Regions from separate parts of the Homo sapiens genome. Here region 1 is linked to region 2. The links come from fine-mapping of genetic effects on plasma protein levels. A gene starts in region 2. The other region holds a variant in brackets. All regions are shown on one strand. Distances are from middle to middle.

The links. PIP is the chance, under the fine-mapping model, that this variant and not a neighbour inherited with it causes the effect. The UK Biobank Pharma Proteomics Project read protein levels with antibody pairs (Olink). The fine-mapping took linkage between variants from a reference panel, not from the people measured, so its PIPs are less certain.
Region 1: its variant is fine-mapped to the plasma level of the CHI3L1 protein (UK Biobank, PIP above 0.99).

The regions. Positions count from the first base shown.
Region 1 is chr1:203,194,782-203,205,460 of GRCh38, forward strand. No RefSeq gene overlaps it. Among named protein-coding and RNA genes, the nearest start is that of CHI3L1, 13 kb to the left of the region's middle. The variant A/G (reference allele first, on the strand shown) is at 5,482.
Region 2 is chr1:203,185,382-203,193,995 of GRCh38, forward strand. CHI3L1 (chitinase 3 like 1) reads right to left here and starts at 1,323. Exons shown (of 10, transcript NM_001276.4): 1 at 1,218-1,323; 2 at 935-964; 3 at 1-4. The coding sequence starts at 1,242.

The DNA of each region.
Region 1 (10,679 bases), 10 kb after region 2:
CTCAAGCAATTCTTGTGCCTCAGCTTCTTGAATAGCCAGGATTATAGGTGTGCACCACCACACCTGGCTATTTTTTTTTTTTTTTGTATTTTTATTAGAGGCAGGGTTTTGCCGTGTTGGCCAGGCTAGTCTTGAACTCCTCCTGGCCTCAAGTGCTCAACCCACGTCAGCCTCCCAAAGTGCTGGGCTTACAGGAGTGAGCCACCACGCCTGGCCTAATTAATTTTTGAGACAGGGTCTCATTCTGATGCCTGGCCGGAGTGCAGTGACACAATCACCGTTCACAGCACCCTCAACCTCCCAGGCTCAAGCGATCCTCTCAACTCAGCCTCCTGACTGGCTGGGATTACAGATGCACAGCCCCCTGCCTGGATAATTTTTAAAACATTTTTTTGTAGAGAGAGGATCTCACTATGTTACCCAGACTAGTCTTGAACTCCTGAGCTCAAGCGATCCTCCTGCCTCAGCCTCCTAAAGTGCTGGGATTACAGGCGTGAGCCACTGCAACCAGCATCATTTAGTTATTTAAAGAAATTAATGAAAGCTGATTTTCCTTTTATCTTAGCTATAGGAATTTTACCTTTGTAGCTATCAATAGCTATTTGGACCATAATAACTTTAAAAGCCAGAACTTAGGGTTGAGGAAGGAAGCTCTGAGCTTGGAATGAAAAGAACCTACTGACACCAACATGAAACACATACCACAGAGAATTCCAAAAGTCACAGAGACTCCAAACAACTTCTTCAACCTTGTATTCTCAAACTCCAAGAAATCTCAAAATCCTTGGACAAACACATTCACCAGAAAATACTACGAGGGGAGTCAGATTCCAGAAACCCTGTCTGCTGCACCTGACAGAAATCATGTCATGGTCAGGCCATAGCAGCATCAAACCTAGATTCCACTCCTGCTGCTACCAATGTGGACACAATTGGCCATGCACCATCAGAACCAGAACCAGAAACAGACTTGGCAAGAATCAATTTAGCTCTATTGTCGCACAGAAGACATTTCAGAGGAGCCAGAGGAGGGTGGGCTGCAGATCAGATCCAAGGGGTAAGGTACACTGTGAGCTCTACCTGTCTGCCTGCTCCCTTGGTAGGAGCCAGGCAGCCAATAGCTTTGTAGAAACTCCAGGAATAAGCTGTCAAAGGAGGACCAGAGACTAATACATTTAGAAAAGAGAAGAAAATAATGAACACTTCAAATCAACTCTTCTAGCTATTTTGAAATATACAATAAATTATTGTTAGCTACAAAAAAAAAAAAAAAGAGAGAGAGAGAAGTAAACAAACTTTCAGTTGCAAAGAGTGGAAGGGAGTAAGCTTTCAAACAAAACTGGCTCATCAAATACAAAGCACAAATGTTTAAAGGAAAAAGTCCCAAATGGCCTAGATGACCGTGTTTACATTGGTACCATTTCTTCATGGTGGAAAACAGCAACTTTCTCACATGGTCATCAGAGTCACAGCGTATCCTCAGACTTCAGCAGAGCAAAAGTCAGGGATCAAATGGTTTTTCTTAGGAAGGCCAAGTTTCTGGGAAATAGTCAAGGCTTATTTTGGGGACCAGAACCAGTCAGGGCGACCCTGTTGGTTTTTTTTTCCTGCCATGGTATGTGAAGTGCTTAGTCATGTTGGAAACAGGGCAGAGTGTCAGCAATGCTCAACACACATTTGTTAAACTAAACTGAACTGAAGTTGACAGTCCCTCATAGGCCCATGAAAACCTGGTCTCTCTGGAGAAGCCACATGAAGATAATAGAAAAGTGATGTACAAGGGTCCCCTTAGCCAGCCTGAAATCAGTTTCCTGGTTAGCAGACAGGGTGGAATGTGGCGCTGTGCACCATTTCTGCCTGGATGTGGGACAGCTGTGTTCAGGCGGCCTCTCCTGTAAGGGAGCAGTGGCTCCCAGGGTCTGTGCTTTCTGGCACACGACACCCATGGGCAGGGGACTGGGAGTGAAAGCAGGGTAAGGAACCACTCTAGAAGTCGGGGCCAGCAGTCTTCACCCCTCTGAAGGTGCCTGGAGCAGCCATGTGTGTATTTATTTTCTGGACCCTGGTTTTGGCCCATCTTGTTAAAGAAGTGATGGCCACTCAAGCCGATCTGGGTGTCCCCCATCCCAGGGATTGACCGGCTTGCTTCTGCCTTCACAGTGTACTCCCCATTCTGGTGCCCACTCCTCACTTCAGTGATTCCTCTTTCTATTCCAGACTCATCTTCTGGAACCTTCCCTCTTTCACAGGCTCACATCTAATTGCTCTATCCTCTGACTGTGTTCTTACAACCACTGGGTCTGTGAGCTTGGGGAACACCTGTGTCTATGGTGGTGTTTTAGTGCCCATGTGTCTCATCTTACCTCTCAGACTGGAAGCTCCCTGAAGGCAGGACTATCTCTTTTCCATCTGCCACACACTTTAGGATCTCCCTGAAGGTAGGGGCTCTCGTCTCCTTTTCTTTTCAGATCTGGTGCCTCCTGAGGGCAGGGTTTGTGTCTCTTTCTGCTGGACTTCCCCATAGCCATGCTTGGGTAAGGGCCTGACTCTCTCAACAGATCTCTCACACCCAAGGACCCAGGTCTCTAACACATCTCTCTGGATGGTGATTGTGATTTGAAACCACTGTTTTGAGGGATGCTTTGCACTTATCCATAGGGCATGCAAAAGGTGTTCTTAGTGATGTCTTGTTGACAATCTTAAACTCCAATCCACTGGATGATCCTCCTTCTCCTCTCCCTTCAGTATCCAGAAGTAAGTGGAGGTTAGTGAAACACACACACACACACACACACACACACACTCCTTCTCCATACATTCTAAATGTCATCTACAAATGTACACCTCTAACCTCTCTAAATAGCCCTGTTCACCATAAACAACCATCCTCTCCTTGGAGTTGTTTTTGATGCCAGGAGAAAAGAAACACTGGCAATGTACAAAGCCAGAGCCCAGGTGACCCCAACCCCACGTGGTGCTGTGGTAGAATCAGAAAAAGTCCCCAACCCCCATTCAGCTCTGCCACTTGCTGACCTTTTTAGCATGACTCAGCCCCCTTGAGCCTCAGCTCCTCACAGGATTGTGGTAAGAATTCAGTGAGGTATGCATGTGAGGGTCTGGCACGGAGCAGATGCTCTGAGGAGGCCGGTTCTCCTTCTCCAACCCCACCTTCATTTCTGGCTCTCCCATGAGATTTCCACCCTCTGCAGTTGAGATGATCCTGTGGCTCCCCCACTAAACACTGAATTTGGAAAACGCATACAGCAGAGCTACATGGATCCCTTTTGCCAGAATGGAGATGGGTCAGATAGCAGTTATAACTCCCTTTAAGAGCCTTCAACATTAAAACAGGCAACTAGCCTGGGCGTGGTGGCTCATGCCTATAATCCCAGCATTTTGGGAGGCCAAGGCAGGCAGATCACCTGAGGTCAGGAGTTCGAGACCAGCCTAGCCAACATGGTGAAACCCCGTCTCTACTAAAAAGACTCAGGTGTGGTGGCATGCACCTGTAATCCCAGCTATTTGGGAGACTGAGGCAGAAGAACCCCTTGAACCCAGGAGGCAGAGGTTGCAGTGAGCTGAGATCTTGCCATTGCACTCCAGCCTGGGTGAGAGAGCAAGACCCTGTTTCAAAGAAAACAGGCAAATAAAGCTATCTTCAGACTCTCCATCCTTAGGAGTACTTAGGGGACCAGGCCTCATCCTTAGGCGACCGGGCCCTTTGGCCTGCGATGAGATGAGAAGGTCCTTCCTGAAGCCTGGAGATGGATGCGATTTGAGAACAGCTTATGTGGTAAGGAGGCTGTGGTAGAGAGAATAATGGCTCCCCAAAGATGTCCATGTCTTAGACCCCAGAGCCTGGAAACATGTAACCACACATGGCAAAAGAGACTTTGAAGATGTATCTAAGTTAAGAGTCTTAGTTGGGGAGGTTATTTTGGATTATCTGGGTGGGCCCAATATAATCACAGAGGTCCTTATGAGCGGATGATGGAGGGTCAGACACAGAAAAGGGGATGTGACAAGGGCAGCAGAGGTAGGAGTGATGTGCTCTGAAGATGAAGGAAGGAGCCACGAGCCAAGGGATGCGGGCAGCTTCTAGAAGGTTAGAAAGGCAGGGAAATAGATTCTGCTCTGGAGACTCCAGAAGGAACACAGCCCTGTGGACATCTTGATTTTAGCTTTATCAAACTTATTTTAGGCTTGTAACCTCAAAAAACTGTAAGACATTAAATATGTGCTGTCTTAAGCCATTATAATTTGTGGTAATTAGTTATAGCGGCCACAGAAAACTAATACAGAGATTGTTTTCTCCATTGACAATGAGGAAGCAGAGAGCAGGTGACCTTTCCAAGTCACTTGGCTGCTAAATACAGAGCCTGTACTGGAGCCCAGTCTCTAGGCTTCCTTTGACCAGGCATGGCCCAAGGCAAACCTGAGTGCAGGGAGTGTGAGGACATGCCTGAAAGTGACCTTTCTCCTGCTAGGCAAGGGCCTGGAGGAGGTGAAACCTGCGTGGTCTTCAATGCCCCTGACATTTGAAAGAAAGTGCCAGCTCCTCAATAAAAACATGCTCGAGGCAGACCTACCCAGGTTGGCACTGGATGAAGACCTCCCTGGTGGGGAGAAAGAAGCAGCTGGATTGCATGATCCCTACCCTGTCCCTCGGATTCACCAAGATGCACATTTCCCTTGAGAGGTTGTAGCCAAGGTGGTCTCAGGGGCACTGGTCACCCCTTAACACTCTGGCCCAGGAGGTGGCACAGTCCTCCCCCTGAAAAGCAGAGCCTGAGCCAAGGCATTCAGATAAGACTCAGGGGAGGCTTGAGGGTGAGGCAGGGGAAGTGCACGCTTTGAGGTGGGTCCTGGACAGTCAGACGTTCAAGCTATGCTCGACTCCTGATTCCATACGGAGGGCGCCATCTGTTTAGGGACCCCTGTTGAAAGATGCACCCCTGCTCCCAAGTCGGGGCCCTCTTCCATCTCCCTAAGGCTAGTCTTCTGAGCTCTGGTTTCCAATAAAGATACAACCTTTCCCCAGGGATTGGAGCTGGGCACCTCCTCTTTGTGGAGACAGAGCTCTCTATCTACAGACATGACCTGACTCATCACTCAGGCCACAGCTGAACCGAGAGAATATAACAGTCCCCCAACATCCACATCACTTCCACACTTCCACTGTTTGGGTAAAGCATTACATTACTCTCTGGAGCCCAGAGTCTTTTGGCTGAAAGACTAATTCACTCCATTATTCATCCTGAGGGGCAAGGGAGACTTGCTATGGGTGCCAAGTGCCCAACACATGCTATTCCAGTCACAACCCGCCCTGCCGAATGCTGGAATGGAGGTGTTGGCCTTATCCCTCTCAGTAGGTGAGCAAACGGAAGCTGAGAGAGGATCAGTGCTTTGCCCAAAGTCGTGCACATTTTATGTGGTTGAGCAAGACTTGAACTGAATTCAGCTCTTTCAACACTGAGTGCG[A/G]GGGTTGTTTAAGTAAGGCTGCCCTCATGGGATAAAAGGAGAGTGGGAGGAAAAAGAGAGAGAGCCAATATTGTAAGAAAATTCATGAAACACAGTGGGACAATAGGACAGAACAGTTGAAACTGGGACTGTCCTAGATAGCTGGTATAGATCTTGCCAAGAAAGGAAGTCAGAAGCTAACTATAGACTGAGGACCACGGGTGTAAGAACACGGTCAGTCCCTGGATTCTGCCACTTCTCCTTGTTGGTAATTTTCCATTCTCCCCACTGCTCCCCTGCAATGACTAGCACATAAACCCTGAAACTGAAAGGGACAGCTAGGAAGCAGATAGCCAGTCTTTGTCCAGTTCTGCAGCTATTTTAGGGAGAGAAAGAAACTCAACAATATGGTGTTTATGAGGAAAGTTTTGAGAAAACGTAAAAATAAGCGGAAAGGAGAGTGAATCTTTGGTGGCTTAGAAGGATAAACTAAAGAGCTCACAGGAGTCTGCCAGGGACTAAGGGCAGCATGTGTTCATTCTTTCAGGAAAGAGTTACTGAGCCCCTATTAGGTGCCAAGTCCTGGGCTAGGGTGGGGAGAGTGAGGAGTGGAACCTCCTTTAGTTAGGACAGTCAGGGAGGCTTCTCCGAGGAGGTGATCTTAAGCAGAAATCTGAGGGATGAGAGGGAGTCAGCTACCTCAAGAAGAGAGAAAATGATCCAGGCAGAGAACACCATATGCAAAGTCCTGGAGGTGAGAAAGAGCTTAGTGTGTTGGAAAAAAAAAAAGAGAAAAGCACAAGCAAGCTGACCAGCTGGCTAGAGTAGTTTGGGGATGTGGGGAGAGACAAGAGGCCCCGGGGAGAGAGGCAGGTCTGTGTCCTGGGGCCTGTGGAAACCACAGAGGGGTTTTGTCCTCTGTGCAATGGGACACCACTGGATGTTTAAGCAGGTAGTCCAGGATAGAGTTTATGTTTTGGAAAGTCACTCTAGTGGCTCTGTAGGGAATAGATTTGTGGTATGGCAAGAGTGGAAGAGGCATGAACATAAGCAGCTGTTAAAGAGGTCCAGGCAAGAGATGCGGTGGCCTGCCCTGGGCTGGGGACGTGGAGGTGGAAAGAAGGGTGGACTATGGACATTCCTTGGAGGGAACATCCGCACACTTACAGATGAGTTGGATGTAAAAGGATGAGGGAATAGAGGGACCAGGAACCACCCAGGGGGTCCTACCTTTAGCAAGGTGGACAAGGTTGTGCTAATTGTTTAATGTGAGGAATTCATGGGGTGGAGATAAGTTTTAGAGTAGGGGGTCTGTCTCAGCCATATTAAAGAACTGTTTATGCCTTATCTGGGTAGAGAGAGCAAGCGGGCTGGTGGATACATGCATCTGGAGCTTGGAGGAGAGGTCTAGGCTGCGGATACAGTCATTGGTGTCAAGATGCTATTTAAAGCCATGGGAACGGATGAGTTCACGTAGAGCAAGAAGGGCAGAAGCCCATGCCTGAGCCCTGAGGCATCCTGACATTTAGAGATCAGGTGGTGGAAGAGACCCAGAAGGTACAACGGCAACTATATCATTCAGCCCGACATCCACAGGCCCTGCAGGTTCAGCCCCAGTCTGCCAGGTGCTAGGGCCAGCAGAGGAGGGGGACAGGGCCCTTGCCCTCAATGGGCCCAGGGTCTATGTAGAAGGCAGTTGTTGAGCCAATACTTACAATATAATATGGTAAAGATGGGCCCAGGAGAAGGAACTAGAAGAAATGACTGTGGTCCCAGGTCCCAGAAGCTAGGGCTATGACTGAGTCTGGGAGGGGCCATGGGCCTCAGAAAGATGGAGAGAAAAGTTGCAGAGGGCCAGGCGCGGTGGCTCATGCCTGTAATCCTGGCACTTTGGGAGGCCAAGGCAGGCAAATCACGACATCAAGAGATCAAGACCATCCTGGCCAACATGGTGAAACCCCGTCTCTATTAAAAATACAAAAATTAGCTGGGTATGGTGGTCGGTGCCTGTAATCCCAGCTACTTGGGAGGCTGAGGCAGGAGAATCGCTTGAACCTGGGAGGCAGAGATTGCAGTGAGCCGAGATTTCGCCACTGCACTGCAGCCTGGGCGACAGAGCAAGATTCTGTCGAAAAATAAAAAAGAAAAGAGGCAGAGGCTGGGAACTATTCCAGGTCTGGCATCCTTCCCTGAGACCTCCAAGTCCCCTTGAAGCTTGTTGCCCATCCTTCCCTTCCGCTCGCCGCCAGCCTCCCACCCCACCTCCTAGTCCGCCTCCAGTTTCTCCACACTGCCCGATCTTCTTCCAGCAGAGCCCCTACCGCTCATGAGTAACAACATGGAGCCCTGCTCATTCCTCATTCCCATTCCTACCCCAGGCCTCCAGGTCTCCACCCCTTCCCTGACAGGCCAGCCTTCTCAGGAGATGTGTTTTCTACAACTAGGATTAACTTGACAGGAAAATGACCACAGCCTGAAGCCTTGCCCTCCATCAGGGAGGGATGCTGTCTCCAAAACAGTTGCTTCATTTCCTGCTGTTGAGAAATCATGCCTGTTGACCAGCTTACATTTCACATTACTAAGAAAGGAGAGAAATCTGCCCTGCTGAACTTCTTAGACAGAAACTTGGTTAACCCCCTGGGTTTGTGGGTGAGGGTCCTGCACGAACCCCCTTCCCTCCTGTCAGCTGCAAGTGCAGCGGCTGGGCTGCTGGTTTACATTGCTGCCTGGGTCATGGTGCCCACTCAGTTCGCTCTCTCCCATGGCTATGTGCAGTCCACAAACCTGGACCGTTTGGCCTCAGCCTCTCTCCATCCTTATCCCCTCCTGCCTCCCGGGTCTTCGCGTGCCTGGTCCAGTCTGGACACACCCTGGCCCTCAATCTGAGGTCATGGCTCTGAGTCTCATGGCTGACTGCCTGAGACTGCAGTGAGGTCTGAACCCTCATTCAAAACTCGATCTCAGTTCTGTTGTTTCTTTACGTTAGGGTCCCCACAGATCATCCAACCAGAGGAAATTTCCTCTGAACATATTTAATTTGTTCTTTTTTAATTGTTTATGACTCATTTAATCTTGAATTATAATACTTTGTGGGCATGCCTTATCCCCTCTCTTCTAGACTCTATAAACTCCAGAAGCTCAGGCCTTGAATCTGGAGTCAAATCTCATTTATCTTCATCCACAGTCTCAGCCAAGAGCTTGGACATGCTTGTGGAATGGATGAGTTTTGATTAGAATTGTAGAAGGAGAATTTGAGCTGATTGATATGGGAAATGCAACCTAGGGATTGATTTGTTGGTTCTGTACAAAAAAGTACCACTAACAGCTAGGAGCAGAGTCTATAAAGGGGATAGAGAGCAGTTCATTTATTCACTCGTTCATTCAACAAACACATATTAAGCATCTACTATTTGCCAGAAGTAGTATTAGATTCCGGAGATATAGTAACAAACAAGGCTGATAAAGTCCTGGTCACATGGAGTTTCTCTTCTAGCTCAGAAAGACGGATAGTCAACAGCAAACAAACAAACAAACAAAAAACAAAACAAAACAAAAAACACCGCGCAGCAGTAAGTGCCATGATAATAAACAATTTGGAGTGATGTGAGAGAGTGACAGGGAGGTGGTTGAAAGGACTCTCTGAAGAAGTGATGCTTAAGGGGAGACCTGAAGGGTAAGCTGGGCTGCTATGGGAAGATCTGGGCATGGAAAACCAAGCCCAGGAAGCAAGAATAGATCAGACCAAGTTTTGAGGTCAGGGCAGGTGGGGAATAGAGATGGGACGAGTTTAATGGGTTCAGAAAACAGAAAGAAGGAAAGAGTAGCTGGATCATTTGTTCATTGCCTCATGGTGATCAAGGGGGCAATGAACAAAGATAATCAACAGTTCAATAGGAAGATAATGGCAAGGTAGACAATACAAATGGTATAGTATCAACAGCAGAAGCTTTGATCTGCGGATGAATTGGAGTCCTGGCCAATTGTTATGGTGTGTGAGCTTGGGCAACTTTTCTAGGTCTTACTTTTCTCAAGCCTAGTTTTTAGAGTTCTTGCAAAGATGAAATGGTATAATAGAAATGAGCATCTACCAAATGACTTTGTGTAAATGGTAGCCTACAATCCAGGTAATAATCTGAAAACCAGCCTTACAAGATCAGGGTTGACCAGAAGCATGGAGCAGAAAGTAATGACCCAGCAGCTGGGCCTAACGAGCCCTCCTTGCTGCTCCTAACCTCATCACCCTCTTTCCCTCTCCTTTCCACTGGCCTGCCCTTTCCTGCCCTTCACGTTTTCCTTATTTTTCTCTAGTCTTTCTCCTTTTCCTACCACAATTTCTCACTCTTTCTTTCCTTTACATTCTTTTAAGTCACACCATCTCAACTGCCTTCAATTTGGAAAACATATTCTAACATATTGATCATGTTTATTTTGCATGGTTTTGTCTTCCTTTAAAAATCAGGTGTTCTGAATGTTTTATACATCTTTCCTAATTAAAAAGAAACAGCAGCAGCCACATCAAACTTCAGTAATTTTATACAGTGATGTGGCCCTTGTATGATTATGATTTTCCACTGAGGTCACTGCCCCTTAATAGAAAATGGCTCCCACCACTGGATTAAGGGATTAGAAAGAGATTGTCTCAAGGCATTTAGGGTCTGGTGTGCTGGGAGATCTCTCCACTGGCAGGGAGGGGAGGTCTGGATGTGTTCAAAGGTCAGTGGCCTCTGAGTCACTGCAGGGATGCTCTGGAGCACAGCCTGGGCATCTGGCTCCACCGCTGGCTGGCTGAAGCTCAGTGGTTGCTGCAGATGTGGAACCCGAAAGGTGGAAGGGCAGGGAAGGCCTGTGGGGTCAGCTAGTGCAGACTGAGATCCTGAGGAATCTGTAAGGACAGGCTCTGGTGTGAAGTGCAATGTAAGACACCCTCCCTCCCATTGTTCCAGGCCCCTGTGCTTGGCCAAGAAAGGACAAGTTTCCTCTGCAAGCATGCGTGTTGCACAAGGGTGGGGTGTGTGTGTGCGTCTGCTCGTGCACATGCATACACGTGTGTCAGGAGGAGGAAGCCATAGAGCAAGTCCCCCATGTTTAGCTCAGGATGATATTGCAAGGAGTCTTCTGGATGGGGGATCAGGGTGAAGAAGTGATGCTTGATGCCAAGTGGAGACTCTGACCCTCCCTTGCTTTCCTTATTTTCTGAGAAGAGGTACCCAGTGGCTGGC
Region 2 (8,614 bases):
GAGCCTGAAGGAGAAGTCTGGGATGGGGCCCGGGCCAGGATTCGGCAAGAGACCTCAGGCTGAGCCCAGAGCTGAGCACCAATGGGGTGTGGGGTTGGGTAGGGAGGAGTGGGGTGCAGATTGTGAGCAAAGTCAGAATTCTTAAATGAAAGGAGCTGGTTCAGGTCCCCCTGCCTCTGGGGAGTTCCCTGACTGGTGAAAATAAGGCCTATTCTGAAAATGCTTAGAAAAGATCCAATGCAGGGGATGAATACGCTACAGGCACTGTGTGGGGGAAGGGTAGGAGCTGGGGAATAAGGATGAAATGGGACTTGGTGCCAGCACAGCAGGCTTCCTGGAAGCAGTGGCTTTGTGGGAGGGGAAGGCCCAAGATAGCCTGTGTCACAGATGGCCCTGGCTTTCAGGCTGGCACCTTTAGTGACCTGCAGTGAGGTCCTTCATCCATGAGGGACTCTGGCCCACCTTTCTCTGCCTCCTGGTGAGAGTGCCTCTAACTTGTAACCCACCCGGAATGGCAGTCCTGTGCTCCCTCGGCATGTCCCCCAGGCTGGGGCACAATATCACAATGGACCAGGAAATCCTTCCTCGCCTCTAATTCTGTTTCTCCTGCTGCAAACAATGTGGGCATCACTCATCCAAGCAGCTACTGGGCAACTGTACTAGCGGCTCCCAGGGGCTGTTAGTCAAAGCCTTCACTGAACCAGGACCTTTTAAAGTTTCTTATTTTGAGAATTTTCACATATACCAAAGAGTATAGCAAAATAAACATCCATATACTCCTCACTCCAGTTTAGCAAACGTGACTATTTCGAAGTCATTGGAAGCACAGAAGAACCTGGCAAAGTGTTCCCTTGGAGCTAAGACCTCCTCCACACCTGCCCTGTGCCCTCGCCACGCCTCTGGACTTAAAAGTGGAGGTGGAGGGATTACTCACAGCACTGGAGCAGCACCAGGACCACAAAGCCTGAAGAGAAATCCAGGATGAGACCCCTGCAAGTGCATCCTGCCCTTCCGCCCTGCTCCCTCCCCCAAGCAACTGAGACCCACCTCCCCCACCCCCACCTCCTGGTTGCAGCCTCAGTCCCTCCCCTGGCTCTGCTTCTCCTCCCCCTCTGCCCACTCCCTTAGTCCCTCACCCAGCAGGCAGATGGCTCTGCGGGCTGTCTGGGCCTGAAAACCCACAACTCTGATGGATTAACCTTGGCTAGCCCAGATACCTGTTTGAGACGCCTTCACACCCATTCTGGCTGCAGCAGAGCAGGGCAGGGTGTGGCCTCTTCCCTTGCCCACGGCTCCTGGTGCCAGCTACCTAGACAGGGCCTCTTCCCCAGGCCCTGTACTTCCTTTATATACCTGTCCCACTCCACTCCCCGACGCGGCAAACCAGCCCTTTTATGGGAACTGAGCTATGTGTCAATGAAGGAATCACGAGGCTGGCAAGTGGAGGCGGGGGAGTACTATGGATTACCAGAGGAGGGTTGAGAAACCGCAGAGTTTTGAAAACTTTGGGTCAGGTCTTCATGAGGCACCTGCCAGCAGAAGAGCCACTAGGGTGATGATGGGGGGCTTCTGGAGATGTGACTCAGCCGCATTTCCCAGCCTTCCTCCCACTCCTGCACCCCACCACTGGCCTTTCTTGCCAGCAATTTCCTGGCTTTTCTGGCAGCCTCTACCTTTGCATCTTCAGCATTCACTCCAGGCCCCTGGCCAGGTGGAAACTGGGCACAATTTAGTTACGTAAGCCACAGTGCCCTAAACAAGGCTGTTGTTTTCTTCCCAGGCTCAGCATTGCCCTGCTTGACCTACCTTCCTACCCTCCCCCTCACACTTTCTGTCTTCAGGCTGGGTAAGGGCCAGAGAGCCTCGGGAGGAAGGAAAGCAAAGAGCCTGAAACTGAGCGCTCCCTTTTGGGCCCGTGTCTTTTTTTTTTTTTTTTTTTTTTTTTTTGCAATTTACATGCTGATTATTTAGAGGGAAAGACAGGGAAATTCCCAAGAATGCTTTAAGCCCCGGTGCTATTTTGCTTCTGTTTTGAAATTCCCATAAAGAGAGAGGATCTTTTGCAAGCTCGGTGCTGCAGTGAGGCACCATGGAGGAAATACAGGCCCTACGGGGCGGCTGCACGAGCATCTGACATCAGTCAGCTCCCCAACTCTCTCAGTGAGGCTTTGGAACCCAAGCCTGATGATACAGCCCCTCTCTAAATCCTTCAGTGATCTCTCATCACTCCTAGGACAAGAACAAAACTTCTTAACGAGGCTCCCTGCCTGATTACGTCCCTGTTTGTGGATACATTTTTTTTTTGGCCAAATATCCAGGACAACTCCATTCTTTGCAGGCTTAACATTAATTAATAGGCAGTGAGTGAAAAGTTCAGAACTCCAAGAGGCAGAATGGGTCCAAGGGCTTCTCAAGAAAGTACCTTTATTTTTCACTAATGTTAGGTAATACTCTAATTTTTCCAGGCTGGTTTTGCAGCTCTCTCGGTGAGGTCTCTCTGCTCTCTCCCTCTTCTCTCCCTCTCTCCCTTTCTCTTCCTTTAAAACTCAGCCAGTGCCTTCCCTTCATTGTAAGAGAGGTGGACAAAAAGTGGCTTGTCCAGAATCACGCTCGGTGAATACTAAAGAGGCATCACTTTTCCTTTTTAAGATGACTGCCTCCTTTTGTACCCAAGATGATTGACAGCAATGACAGTCAATGATAGCTTCTTCTGGTTCATTTGGGGCACTGAGAGGAGGACTTCTAATTTCTAATAGTGATATTATGAAGTGGCATGCAGATGCAAAATTTTTCATCACAGAGCACAGGATGTTAAGAAAACACCTCCTATTTTCACTATCTCCCTTTGTTAAAAATTATTTCATAGGCTTAGATTGGCCCAAGCCTTGTTGTCCTATGCTCCCTCAAGCTCAGTTTATTAATTCCACATGCTCTGCCTGAAGGCAGCTTTGTAACAACAAATGGCCAAGATACCCCCAGGCCTGTGTTAGCAGGATTGGCCAAGGGTCTCATAGGCTCACCACCTCCCAGCCTTATCTCAGGCCATGACCCCCACCCTCCCTATATTCCACTCATGCTTATATGTCTTCTTTTAAATCCTTATATTTGCTCTACTGACTCCCGCCACAGGGCCTTTATATATGACATCCACTTGCCTGTAAATAACGATGAAAGATCTGAGATTTTATGCTACTTGCAAATTAATGACATAACTACAGTTTCGTGGATGTTGGCAGAAGACACGAGACTCCTAGGTCAGAGACAAAGGACTTTATTATCCATGGTACAGCAAGCAGCATGAACTTCATGTTAGGGTCAGTTCCCCTTAGCCCTCAGGTCTCACAAGGGCAGTGTTGGAGGAGCCCAGGTAGATGCCATGAATGCAATGAGTTACATCACAGCAGAGGAATCCCTAGTTTAAGGAACTCAAATCTTTCATGATGAGCAGTAAGCCTTCCTCACCTTGGCCAGCCCAAGATAAGGGAGACATTATCTTTATTACTGGACAGTAAACAAATCTGCCTTTTGGTCTGGAGGGGGGACGCTATTTCTATCTTCCAAGGCTGTTTGCTGTACAAACATCACTAAAAAGATTGCCTAGAACAAAGAAGCCAGTGCCTCTGCACATAAGCTGTGCAGGAAATGCAGGCAACCCATGGAGAATTGCGGTTGGAGAATTGCGGATGGAGAATTGCAGCCTAACACTGCTCTTCTTTGACTGCTTTATTCTTCCTCATCCTTCAGATTGCAGCTCAGGAGTCACCTTGTCTGCAGAAAAGGCAGTCTCCAGGTGACAGAAAACCCGCTATAGGGCTGTCAGAGCACTTTGTACCTCTCTCCTTAACACCTGACTCAGTTATAATTTTATATGTTGTGTGTGGCAGTGGATGTTTTGTTTGCCTCTCTCACTAGACTATAAACTCAGTAAAGGCAACGGCTGGGTCATTTTATCCACCTTTGTATCTATCCCCAGTGCTTGAGACATAGTAGATGCTCAGTAAAGTACTCGTTGAATAAATGAACAAATGATCTCAAAATGGTGCATAACTTCACACTCTTATGAGTTTAAACCCTGATGTTCTCAAAATTTCATCTCATTCAATAGTTTTTGTTACCCTGTGAAGAACTGACTCAGGAGGTGCCATAAAACCACAAAACAAGCTTCCTGACTTAATTTCCCTAATCAAACATTTCTAGGCCCCACAGTACATTGATAGTGTTCAACCAATGTTTATTAAGTAAGTGTACTAGAGTAGTTGCCTTCCACTGAGGTAGACAGTAGAGACAGAAAGGTGAATGGGAACAGAGAGGCAGTCCCTGTCCTCATGAAGCATACAGTCTGGCAAAGAAGATGGACATTAAACAAAGAAAAGCAAGTAATGTATTACGAAGGAAGGGCAGGTGTTAGTCTGCCCCTTGCCCACCGTCCCCTACACACAAAAAAAATTGTGCAAAAACCTGGAGCAGGAAGAGGTTGTTATGTTCAGGAACCAGAAGAATTCAAGAGTGGTTGAGGCATGGAATTAGCAGGAGGGAGCTCGAGGGAGGCACAAGATGAGTCTGGATCAGGAGCCAGAGGGTGGACATTACCACCATTCAGAAAACAAGCTCCTGGGAGCCTGGGCTGGCCCCTTGGGCACAGTGGTTTTGAGGATTCCTTCATTTTGCATGGCGTGTCAGAGCAAACAGAGGTGGTGTTGATGCCCCACCAAATGCTTGAGGAGAATTCTCTCTTTTACAAGTAGTCTCTTCCTCCAGAGGGTGGACTTCTGCCAGGCAGGAATTCAAATCATCTCCAAATCCTCAGCTCGGTGGTGGTGCTGGCGCACAGTAGAAGCTGTCGAAGACTCAGAGGCAGAAACACTTAGAGAAGAAAACAGTTGCTTGTGAAAAGCGGAAGCGAGTCAGATTTCAGAATGGCTGGCTCGTCAAATGCAAAATGCAACAAGTATTTGAAGGGGAAAAAAAAATGACCCAAGGTTATCACGTTTGGTGGAGATCAGCATCATTTTTACAACACATCTTCACTTATCAGCATAGCAAAAATCAGGGATGAAATTGTTTTTTTCGGGGAATTTTTTTTCTTTTTGAGACAGAGTCTCACTCTGTCACCCAGGCTGGAGTGCAGTGGCGTGATCTGGGCTCACTGCAGCTTCGACCTTCTGGGCTCAAGCCATCCTCCTGCCTCAGCCTCCCAAAGTGTTGGGATCAATGGCGTGTGCAACCACACCCAGCTGGGAATCCAAATTTATGGGAAATAGCCAAGGCTTATTATTTTGGTGTCTTAAACCACTCAGGATAACCTATTATTCTTGGCTTATCTCCAGATGCAAATTATTCCCATCCCCACCCCGCAGTGGTACTTGGTCATGAATGAAGCCAGTAGAGTGAAGAGTTGGGCTTTGCGTCTACGGATTTTCCTTCCTTGTGGGCAAGTCCTTGCCATTGAGGCATGGGTTGAACCGTATATGTTGCTTAATAACTTCCTGATGCAGCATCATCAAATTGATATTTTGTTTTATTTGACCAAAATTTATTTCTATTGACATAACAGGAGGTGTTGATGAAATAAATACTTTCTTTTTGTATGGCTAGCGAAACCAGAGCCACATGATAGTGATGCTTTACAGTGAGCTTCTGTCTGGAGGCTTTGTAAAGCCCCTAGGGCTGGGAAGAAATTACTTTTATGTGTGAAGTATTATATCAGCACCATTTTCTCTAAGATTCCCATATGTGTTAATATTCCTAGACTGCCAGGAAATGTAGGTTTTATTTATTTATTTATTTATTTATTTATTTATTTATTTTACTACCTCTAAGGCTGCAATGTCATCAGTTCTAAAGCCATACCAGAGTTTTCTAGAGGACTTCATAGGTGTCATTTCCACATGTAAAATGTAGTCTTTATTCCTTAATAGTGGCTTATCATATAACAAAAATTCTTTGCTTGGCCAAATTTCAGGCGGGCTTCTGAATCTTCTCCTAGGCCCATCTGTGCACTTCCTTGTAAAATCCAGTTTTAGCAAAGAGCCCTGCTAAGTCAATTTAGCAAGAACCCCCTACCCTCAACATCTGAATACCTTGACATCTGACCAGGTTCCTTGTCCTTTATCATGCCCCAGGGGATGTCTGACCACCCTGGCCTGTCTGCAGCAAGAATCCTGTTAAGTCTGTTTAGCCAGAATCCCCCTTACTCCTGTTTCCTCTTAGTAACTTCTGTCTACAGACCCCCTGGTCCTTAGCTACTGATTTCCACTTGCCCATGCTGTATTTAGAGTTGAGCCCAATCTCTCCCCCCAACTGCAAGACCCCATTGCCCTGGTTCCTGTACCTGTCATAATGATCTTGGATAAAGACATCCTTACATACTTCAACAAGTGGCATTGGATAATTTTTTTCTTTAACACATACCTAATTAAATGGAATTTTGGCATGGTCAGTATCCAATTATTTTCTGGTAAGAAAAAGGACAGATTCTCATTGGATCTATATAAATAACATGATCATAAACATTCATTCTATCTAGAAGTGAATAAGCTATATTAATTTGGTTCCAATTTTCCCCCTCAAATGTATAACATAGGATATTTGATCATAAAAAGTAAAGGAACTTGTAAAAGCATGGGTAAGAGGAGAAAACATAAACTGTGCTTGTTCTGTTCTCTCACTCAACACAATGACCACCATCAACACAGGAGACTTCTGCCACCAAATGTGTGGGTCTCTCCCCATCACCAAGCAAGCATTTGCAATGGACACCAGCTGGGTGTCCTCCAGTTCAATTCTGATGCTCTCGGCCTGCAGAGAGCATCAGATCCCACAGGTTGAGGGCTCATTCCTACAAGACTGCCGCCCCTTCAGGCATCAACCACAAGTCTGGGCCTCTGGAACTTTTGACTGACCAGCTTCAAGTTGGGGTTCCCACATTCACCTCTTTAGGTTTAATTTGTTAGAGAGGTTCACAGAACTCAGGGAAACACATTTACCGGTGCATTATAAAAGATATTACAAAGTACACAGATGCTGAGATACACAGGGCGAGGTATGGGGAAGGGGCTTGGAGCGTCCATGCCCTCCTTGGGGGTGCCGCTCTCCAGGAACCTCCACATGCTCAGCTACCTGGAAGTGCTCTGTACCCAGTCATCGTGGGCCTTTATGGAGACTTCACTGGGTAGTCATGATTGACAACCATGTAGAAATGTGATTGGACAAGAAGGGTGTGGTCTAATACTAATAGACGCAATAGGGAAACCCAGCAAGGGCTGTCTGTTCAGATTCTTATTGGCCTCTATGCAGCATTCCTTCTTTCAGGGAACTGGGCAAGACTCTCTTTTGAAACAGGGGTCTTATGACCTACAATCCGACAAGGTAGGTCAGGGGATTTCTTTATGACCAGAGAAGGGGAAAGGTTAGAGTATATTTTTATTGTCTAAGGCCTGCTTCTGAGGCCTAAGACATCCCAACATTAAACACAAGATTGTTACAAGGGCTGCGGGAGTTATGAGTACTGTTCTGTAGACAAGTCCGATCAATACAGGTCATTATAATCTGATCAGGCTGTACAGTGAACTTCTGTCCGGAGGCTTTGTAAAGCCCTTAGGGCTAGGAAGAAATTGCTTTTATGTGTGAAGTATTATATCAGTGCTATTTTCTTTAAGATTGCCATGTTTGTTAATATTCCTAGCCTGCCAGGAAATGCAGGGTTTTTTTCTTCTTTTAAAATTGTCCTGATGATATATTAGTTTATAATCTATATTAAGATTTCCCATGGGATTTTTTTTCCTTTTGAAATTTGAAAGTTCAAGTGGGACTAAGTGACATTTAAGGAGTGCGCCCATGTGCTGTACGTATAAAAACCAACACTGGATTTGAAGACATAGGTTGGAAAAAAAAAAGGTTAGCTATCTCATTAATAATTTATAGATTGACTACATGTTGAAATGTTAATATTGTGGGTATATTGGGTCAAATAAAATATATTATTAAAATCTTTTTAAAAAGAGTGCCTTACTCCAGTATGTGTAGGTATAATATGTTAAATTGAAAATGAGAGATAGAGTAAGCAGATTTTTTTCTGATATTAATTAAAATATAATATCGATCATAATGAAACCAACACTTATTTCACTTAGTCCTAGGTAATTCATTTTTGTTTTGTTGGTCTTGGGTTAGGTAGACCAAACTTTCTTCTATAAAATTGTATGCTTTCTGATCAGCTGCTCTCACTCTCTATGCAACTACTCAACATGGCCCTTGTAGCAGGAAAGCAGCCGTGAGAATACTGACCCAAGGAGCATGACTGTGTTCCAATAAAACTTTATTTAAGGCCGGGCGCGGTGGCTCAAGCCTGTAATTCCAGCACTTTGGGAGGCCGAGACAGGCGGATCACGAGGTCAGGAGATCAAGACCATCCTGGCTAACACGGTGAAACCCCGTCTCTACTAAAAATACAAAAAATTAGCCGGGCGTGGTGGCGGGCGCCTGTAGTCCCCGCTACTCGCGAGGCTGAGGGAGGAGAATGGCGCGAACCCGGGGGGCGGAGCTTGCAGTGAGCTGAGATCACGCCACTGCGCTCCAGCCTGGGCGACAGAGCAAGACTCCATCTCAAAAACAA